2 separate regions of the Homo sapiens genome follow, and region 1 is linked to region 2. The links come from fine-mapping of genetic effects on gene expression. A gene starts in region 2. The other region holds a variant in brackets. All regions are shown on one strand. Distances are between the middles of the regions.

Region 1 (4,513 bases), 44 kb after region 2:
CCTGCCTTTGCCTGCTGTGTCCCGCCTTTCAGTCCGTGGATGTTTCTACATGTTAGAGGTGTGCCAAGGTTCTCATTTCCCAAATATTCGTTCCCAGAGAAGGACGCAGGTGAACCACGAGTTCTTCTGCATTCAGGATGTGGCGAGAAAGCCAGGTTTTCCTGCCCTATCCTCCCTCCCCTCAACAAAAGTGAGCCTTCCTCTTTTATACCAGTCTGGGCAGTGCAGAGTAGGAAACAAACAGCTCTGTTTCTCCCTCTCCTTCCTCAACAAATGTGTTTCCCTGCAAAGCAACTTCACTATTTGTGTGTGGGTTCTCAGTGCCCTCCATGGCAGCTGGCTGCAGGCCATCCCAGGGCTAACCCATAACATTCACAAGACAGCCCCATGGACAGAGAGAATCACTCATGAACTCCAGCAATTATGACGTTTCTTTCTTTTATTCTAATAGAGTAACTCTCAATGTATCTCCAGCTAAGTTATTTATCAAATAAAAAGTTCATATTCCATACCTAATTAGATTTCTTTGTAAGCTTCGACTGATCCATCCTATAGATCTGGTTTGTTGAGAATGCAATGACATATGAGAAGATGAAATGAAAGCAAGTTCATTGGGGGAGTTAATGCTTTAAAGTTGAGACTTCTTGGGACTGGTTCAGAGAAGGCTTCATTTCTGGGAAAGAAAAACAAAGAAAGATGAGATGGGAAGAAGCGAGAGGTCATATAATTTGGTTTAATGAGGACTGTTTGGGGAGCTGTGGCTTTTAGCCATGCCTGTAAAATTCTCCTTTGACTACATATGAGGGCTACATGAGAATTTTTCTGCTAAAGATTTAGTATTCCAGTTATGTATTACTGTGTATTGAACCATCCCAACATGTAGTGCCATAAACCCACCCCCATTTCATTGTGCTTGTGAATTCAGTGGGTCATGAGTCTGAACAGGATGAAAGGGGGTGGCCTCCCCTCCTCAGTCTCTAAGGCCTCAGCTGGAAAGACTTGAGTGGTCAGGCGTGATGCTGAGGGCTGGGGCTGAGCAGGGCCTTCTGCAGGTGCTGTCACTCAATGCCTGGGCTTGACAGCTGGGAGGCTGGGTCCTGTTGGAGTGCTGACCACAGTTCCTCCTCCTCACCTTTTTGCCTGGTTAGGCGGCTCATAGCATGGTCGCTGGATTCTAAAAGAGAGGGCCTGTGATGGAATATTTTATGTGTCACCTTGGGTAGGCCATAGCAGATATTTGGTCAAACACCAGCCTAGCTGTCACTGTGATGGCATTTTTAGATGATATGAGCATTTAAATCAGTATACTCAGAGTAAAGTCAATCATGCTTTATCATGTGGGGGGCCTCGCCCAGTCAGTTGAAGGTCATATAGCAAAAAGACTGAGGTACCCTGAGGAAGAGGGAATTCTGCCTCCCGACTGTGTTTGGGTTCAAGTTGCAGCACCAGCTGTTTCCTAGATCTGCAGCCTGACAGCCTGTTTTGCAGATGTTGTACTTGCTGGTATCCACAATTGTGGGAGTGGATTCCTTAAGGTAGATCTCTCTGTACACACACACACACACACACACACACACACACACACACACACACCCTATTAGTTCAGTTTAAGAAACAGTAATCGATAGGGGCCCAGGAGAGAGTCTCAAGAGAGATTATTAGAGGAGATGAAGGCTGAAGTGTCCAGGTCACGTCCCTAGGCTCTTTGGTGGAGCCCAGATTCGGGGGGAGGGGACATAGCCTACCTCTCCAGGGGAGGAATGTCAAGGAATGTGGAACCATTGTTTTCAGCCTCCACACCATGAAACTGCAGTGGCCCTTTGACAGCCAGGACCATACAGAGGGCAAGGGTTCCCAGTAATTGTCTAGGGAGCTGGGTGAAGAGCAGAGAGGAAGAGCACACCTGTGCTAAGAGCCCCAGCACCATTGCACAGCCTCTGAACACATCCTCTTAGGAGGAGCCCATTTGCACCTACATCTCCTTAGGACCAAGTCATCAAGGTGAACTACTGCCTCTGAGCTTTGGGAGAAACCTGTGGCACAGGCCATGGGATCTGAATATCTGGATGACACAGTAGGCAACTTGGAAGAGGGTGTAGAGGCAAAACCTAACATTTTGTGGATTAGGTTGTTGGGCGGCTGAACACATGGGCGACAAGGTCCTCCCTCTACTCCCAGTGCACCAGGTAGTACAATAAATTCTTTCATGGTCTCATTTAACCTTTGAAATAAGCATGTAGAGTAGTGTCTCAGGAATCTATTGTAGAACAAATCACTCTAACAGTCATTTCATCATGTACCCTCGTGGTCCTGGGGTAGAATAGGCTCGTCTGGGCTCTCCCTCAGCTGTGGTCAGAGGGCAATGAGGGCAGAAGTTCTCTCCAGGCTCACCCACTCACTGTGGATGTGCCATCTGCTGGGACCTCAGCTGGGACTGTCAGCTGGAAAGGCTGTGTGGGGTCTCCAGGTGGCTGCTTGGCTCCAAGCAAGAACATCCCAAGAGGGTCTAGCAGAAGCTGTGTAGCCTCTTATGACTTCACCTCAGAAACACAGAGTGTCACTTCCACGGCATTCCATTTTTTACCAGTGAGTCTCAAAGGCCAGCCCTCATTTGGGGGAAGGAGTATCAAAGAATTTGCA[G/A]ATGTGTCTTAAAACCATCACAGGCAGCATGAATTTCTCTCACTATATAGATGAGGAAACCAAAACCTGGGAGCCTGAGTTGACCGTGATGGTGCACACAGCTAGCAAGCAGCAGAAGTGAGACATGAAAACAGCTCAGCCAGGGTCCGAAGCCTGTGCATACAACCACCCTGCCACCCTGCGTCTCTGTAGCCAATATTTTAGCAGGGCATATACTACATAGATACATAGGAACAGAATTTGAGATTGAAAGGCACGAGAAAGAACTAATAAACTATTCCAAGAGCAGGCAAGGAATGGGCTTGTACCACTAACAGAGGTCAGAAAAGGCTTCCCATGGCAGGTGGACTTGGCAGAGTGGGTAAGATAAGGATGCGCAGAGAAGCTGGAGGGGGACAGGAAAATGTGGCAGGGTGGACGGGGAGCAGGTATTTTAGGCAGAGACACTGCACATGTGGAGGCAGGAACATACCTGGTAACCCTAATAACAGCCCAGTGTGCATACAGTGATTCACAAAAGAAGAAAATGAAGGAGATGTGGACTGGCACCTGGTATAAAAGTGCTTAAATGCCAGGTCGAGGCCTTTTGCTTTCATTTAAAGCTATGCTTCTCCAAGTGGTCCCTGGACCGGCAGCATCAGCATCACCTGGGAACTTGCAAGAAATGCACATTCTTAGCCCCACCCTAGACCTATGTTTTAACAAGTGCTCTAGGGGATTCTGATACAGCCTTTAGTTTGAGACCGTCTGCTCCTAGGTATGGGGGGCAGGAGAGGTGGGGACCCAGCAGTTTTGAGCGAGAGAGTGCAATAATCTGAGTTGCTCTTCAGCAGATCACCCTGGCTGGGGTGTGCTGGGCAGACTGAAGTAAGAGAGCAAACCTTTGCCCCAAGGAAGGGTAATGCAGGGCTGAACTAGCACAGGAAGAGAGGAGGAAGGCAGGAAGGAAGGGCCCAGCACTGGGGCCCTGCAGCCTTGGGACTTGGTGATGGTGAGGAGAGCAAGTTCTCCCTCACAGCGTCCCATGTGGACCTCACAGGTACAGCCAGCTACTTAGAATTTCTCTAAATATTTGAACCACATGGCCCAGGAATCTAGGTATAAACTCAGGACGCAGGGGTTGGGTTACAGGCTCAGTTTCCTATTACACAATCAAGCAACTCTCTGCATTTTGCCTCCGGGAAAGCATTGCTTGGTCAAGCATTTTCTTTCAGCCCTTCATGCTTCATTGCAAGGCCTTTTGGCTAGACTCAAGGACCACTGAATTTTCTAAACCACCTTTGCAAAATGGGTTTAAAAATATGATCTACCACATATGGTTGAAAATTAAATGAGATAATTCTTCACACTCAATACTTATTAACCACTTTTATTATCACCCTCATGATCATTATCATTATTACTCACTCATTCATTCATCCAAGCTATATTTGCTGTGCACCCACTATGTGCAATGCTCTGGAAACATAGTGGTGAATTATCATGGCCACTCCTCTGGGTCTCTCTCTCCTTCATTGCCAGTTTACCTGTGAGATGGACAAGAACATGGGTCTTAGAACCTCATAAATTGGGTTTGAGCTCTAAATTTTTTAAAACATTAACTTTATAATCTTAGAAAATTACATCTCTAGGGCTCTTAATTCACTTGCAAATGGGATTGAAAGACTTGTCTTGTGTCACACAATTGTGTGAGGATGAAATGAGAAAAGAGATGTGGAGGCATTTGGAGGATGGTACAGGCTGTGCACCCTCAGGAAGTGCCAGGATTCCTGCTTCTCACTTCCCCTCCCTCAATCCCATGTCCTCCCCTTGGCCCGTTCACTCCCAAAGTTTCCCACTCTCTCTGGTCTCTAGGCCCAATTCCACACTGTAG
Region 2 (4,000 bases):
CATCTTCCCCTAGCATTTAATGGCCTTCTAAGTATTTTATGCGTAATTACTTATGCTTAGCGCCATGTGCTTCTAAACGTTTAGTGCCTTTTCTAAACTACTTCAAACATGTAGCCCAGGTCTAGCACATAGTGGGTGCTCAGTAAGTATTTAACGAACGACTAGCGGAAGGGATGGCCCCATGGGTGCCACAGTAGCTTCTGTTCTGGGGCCTCAGGGCGCCTGCGGGAGGGGCAGCGGCCAGGCCTGAATCCCTGGTTCGCCCTCGACTCAGCCCACGCGGGCCTTTCAGGCTTCTGGGACAGATCCTAGGTCCAGCTGCCCACCTGATTTTGTGGCAAAGAAAAAAAGAAGAAGAAGAAGCGAGAGGCGATGGCGTTTGCTTTGGCCAGATTTAAGGGCAAGCGAGGCTGCGCGCGGCTCCCGCAGGGTCGGATCTCCGAGCTCCAGGGCGCCCCTCCACCCGGGTGTAGATTTCCCGCGGACCCCTTCGCCCTCCCGGGTTTCATCAGCTGCGCAGGAATGGAGCTGGCCAGAGCTCTGGGAGCGGGGAGGGAGGCGCCGCCACCAGAGGGCGCCGGAGCCCCAGCGCTGCGGCCGGTGAGCGGCCAGGCTCCCCGGCCCAGCCCAGCAAAGGCCTGGGGACGCCCGACGGCTGCCTTCTTCACTGGACCTCACTGCCTTCAGTTCTTTAAGAGCAGGGCCAAGTCAGTGGGGTTCCCGGCTCCAAGCCCAGTGCCCAGGGTGGGTGGGTGGGTGGGTGGGTGGGTGGATGGATGGATGGATGGATGGATGGAGTGCCGGCCCACAGCCATCTAACGGCCAAAGTGGTTTTGGAAAAAAAATGCACAGAAGACACCTACTCCCACCAGCGGAGTTCCGGAGCCCTCGCAGCCTCCTGTTGACCGCTCCCGCCTAATGCAGCCGCTGACCGCCCACTCCCCGACGGCCAGGACTCCCCAGGGACAGGGACGTGTCCCCAGGGCAGGCCCCTGGATGGACGCGGCGACTGACCCCACTTCGCTGGACGCTGTGCTGGGAAGGACACAGAGAGGTGGCTGGGGCAGCCTGCGGTCACAAAGCGAGGCCCAAAGGGGCGCTCTCCTCACCCCCACGTCTCCTGGGTGCCGACCTGCACCCTCCCTTCGCCACCGGACTGGGGCCATCTGGGATGTCTCGGGGGTATCCGGAGGGCTAAGCACCGCCGAGGGACGGCTCCGTGGGAAGAGTTTTCTGGACCCAGAAGGCAGACGCCAGTAGTACTGTCCTAGGAGTCGGAGGTCGGGGTGGGGGAGTTCTCAGCTCTTTGGGTCGCACGGAGCTTTTCTTGGGTAAGGCAGTAAGTACTTAGGTTTAAAGGACTTACTTACAGCTACCATTTATTGAGTACTGTCTGCTTGTCAGACACGATGCAGAGAATTTCGCGGCGTGGGGCGGGTCTCATTGAATCTCCCGTCCCACTCCGCGGGGTGGGCCTGTGATTAGCTCATTTCACCATTGAGAGGTCGGAAGTACAAAGGCTACATTCGCTTTTACTGAGAGCCGCCGGCGCCTTCTGCTTTGTTTGTACAGGCGAGGAAACTGAGGCTCGGCTGGTGGCGCCGTGGGCTTGGAGTCCGAGCCACGCTGACTGCAAAGACGGGTCTCATTCCCGCAGATCGAGCTCTGCCGGCGGCTGCGCCGCAAGCCGGGCAGGTGGCGAGCTTGAGCCCCCACGCACAGAAAGCAGGACCCCCTCGGCTGCCTTGGGCCGCCACCGCCAGCAGGCCCTCCGCCCGGGACTAACTTGTTTGCTTTTCATTGGTTCTCATTCAGTTCCCGCCATCGAAAGGCCCCGTCCCGCAGCTTTCCACGCGCGCCCCACTTTACGCCTAAGGTCCTCAGTCTCTCCAGTGGGGCCCTGTCACAGGGACAATAAGCGGCCCTCCAGCCGGCGTCGCTCAGGCTGCGGACCTCACTGCAGACCGGGCCAGCGGTGCGGGGCCCAGCGGAGCCTGAGAAGGTCAAAGGCCGGAGCGCACTGCGCCTCGGGAGCACAGAGGGAGCGGAGGAGGGGCGAAGGGGATGGGTGGGGGGTGCCGCCGAGGGAGTCGCGCGTCAGAGACCCCGGCCACGGCCAGCACTCGGCTCCGGGCCCGCCCCTCACCGCGCGCCCCGCCCCGCCCCGCCTGGCTCTCCCCTCTAAAGCGCCCGGCGCGCGCCTCCCACCGCCGCACTTTCACTCTCCGTCAGCCGCATTGCCCGCTCGGCGTCCGGCCCCCGACCCGCGCTCGTCCGCCCGCCCGCCCGCCCGCCCGCGCCATGAACGCCAAGGTCGTGGTCGTGCTGGTCCTCGTGCTGACCGCGCTCTGCCTCAGCGACGGTAAGTGCGCTCGGCGGGGAGGCCCTGGCGAGGCTCTGGGCTTCGGCTCCCGCCCGGCGCAGAGCCGCGGCTCCTCTGCCTGCGCCCGCAGTTTGCGCCGCCCGACACAGTGGGGGTGGAGGCAGCTCGCTTAGCTGGGCGCTCTGGTGCGGTGTCGCGTTCAAAGCCCTACTTTTGCGCCGAGGGTTTGTGACCTGCAGAGAGCGACCGCCTGACCTCAAGCTGGCTGCAGAGCGAGGTCAGCCGGGACAACTGGGCAGGAACGCCCCAAGAGAGCGTTCGGGACTGGCGCGGGAAGGCGCGAGGGTGGGGAGCCGCGGACCCCAGACCCCTGCCTGCCCACCCTCCACCCACTGCCTTCCCGCTGCGGGCTCGGTTTCCACAGGCGAATGGGCTCCGAGGTCCTGCTGCGCACAGTGCTGGAGGTCGGGCGGTGCATGGCGAGAGCGCGCTTTGCAAAGTTCGCCTCATGCCGCGACTTGAGGCTGTGAGGTCCGATGCAGCCGCGCAGCCTCCGCTCCCTGCGAAGCCGATCCTCTCCCCACACCCTCGCGGGGCTCTTGGCCAGGCGCGGGCGGGCTGCGCGGCGCAGCTGTCGGGCTTGTGCCACCCGCCAGGCCGCGCTTCTGCACAGCTCCGCGGTCCGCAGCGACGCGGACCTGGGCGCGCGTCCAGCCGCTGTCTTCCTGTCTCTTCTCGGGTTCACCTGAGAGAGGCCCAGGGACCCTCCGAGCCTCACACGCCCCCTCCCCAGCTCCCCAAACACACCTGCAGACAGGCTCTTTTGTCACCAGCTGGCCAAGCGCTTTGCCCCAGAATGAGAGCTGCAGCAAAGTTCAATCTCCAAGGCCCTGGGCCACTGGGAACCGTGGTGTCCCGTTTCACTGGGAGAGGGCTTTTTTCTTTTCTTTCGCTGAAGAGAAACTCGCTGCGCTGTCACAGGACACCGATGCAAACCAAAATAAACTGTTGCCTCTGAACACACAAAACAAAACCCTGTGGCTCAGGCCGCTGAGCTTCCTTGGCTGTGAAGTTTCCTGCAAAGAGTTGAAGGACACTCTGAGTGCTCTTGCAGCCGCGGGCTGTGCAGGCCCAGCGCGCCTCGAGCCCTTGGCTGGGTTGGTGCAGACGTGGCCCCGGCGTCCTAGCTGGCTTGGACTGTGCGCTGGTGTGAGCAGGACCAGCGCAGCTGAGTCGGGCTGGAGAAGCTGGGCAGCCTGGGGTCGTGGCGGACTGCCTAAGTGTTAAGGACACAGACTGAAGGCAATTGGGAATGTTCGTCGTTGATGAAAAGTCCCTGAGGCTGTGTCTGCACACTGACCCCCCCCCCCCCCCGCAAGTCATGGGGCATGTTTCTAGTTTTTATTGCTGGATATTCTTCTGTTCCTGTAAGGTCTCTGGTTTGGGCAGTTATTGACTGATTGGTGGGATGAGCGCGGAGGTGTCACAGTGCGCCGCTCTGGGAAATGGTGCTGCCCCCTCCCCGGAGGGCTGGAGAGAGGATTGGAATGAGGAACCTCGGTCTTTGAGTTATGGGTGCAACTGACCTGGGGGAAGCACAGAGACGTGGGGTTCATCCCAGACTCCTCCTGGCCTGGGAAGGGTGACATGGCCCTCAGAGTTGCCCCATTGGCAGCC

Direction of the effects. Alleles are on the strand shown, and positions count from the first base shown. SD is a standard deviation of normalised expression in the study named.
For the expression in pancreas of the gene that starts at base 2,210 in region 2, A is the high allele of the variant in region 1 and G is the other (small effect, 0.31 SD a copy in GTEx).

Evidence for each region. PIP is the estimated chance that this variant, and not a neighbour inherited with it, causes the effect.
Region 1: its variant is the best candidate, but not a certain one, in a credible set for the expression of CXCL12 in pancreas (GTEx, PIP 0.53).

What each region holds. Positions count from the first base shown.
Region 1 is chr10:44,338,643-44,343,155 of GRCh38, reverse strand. The region is part of intron 1 of LOC124902544 (a long non-coding RNA gene); the gene reads left to right. Among named protein-coding and RNA genes, the nearest start is that of CXCL12, 44 kb to the left of the region's middle. RefSeq lists an enhancer at 4,388-4,513. The variant G/A (reference allele first, on the strand shown) is at 2,641.
Region 2 is chr10:44,383,307-44,387,306 of GRCh38, reverse strand. CXCL12 (C-X-C motif chemokine ligand 12) reads left to right here and starts at 2,210. Exons shown (of 3, transcript NM_199168.4): 1 at 2,210-2,362. The coding sequence starts at 2,302. RefSeq lists a silencer at 472-681 and enhancers at 2,575-3,266, 3,267-3,960, 3,961-4,000.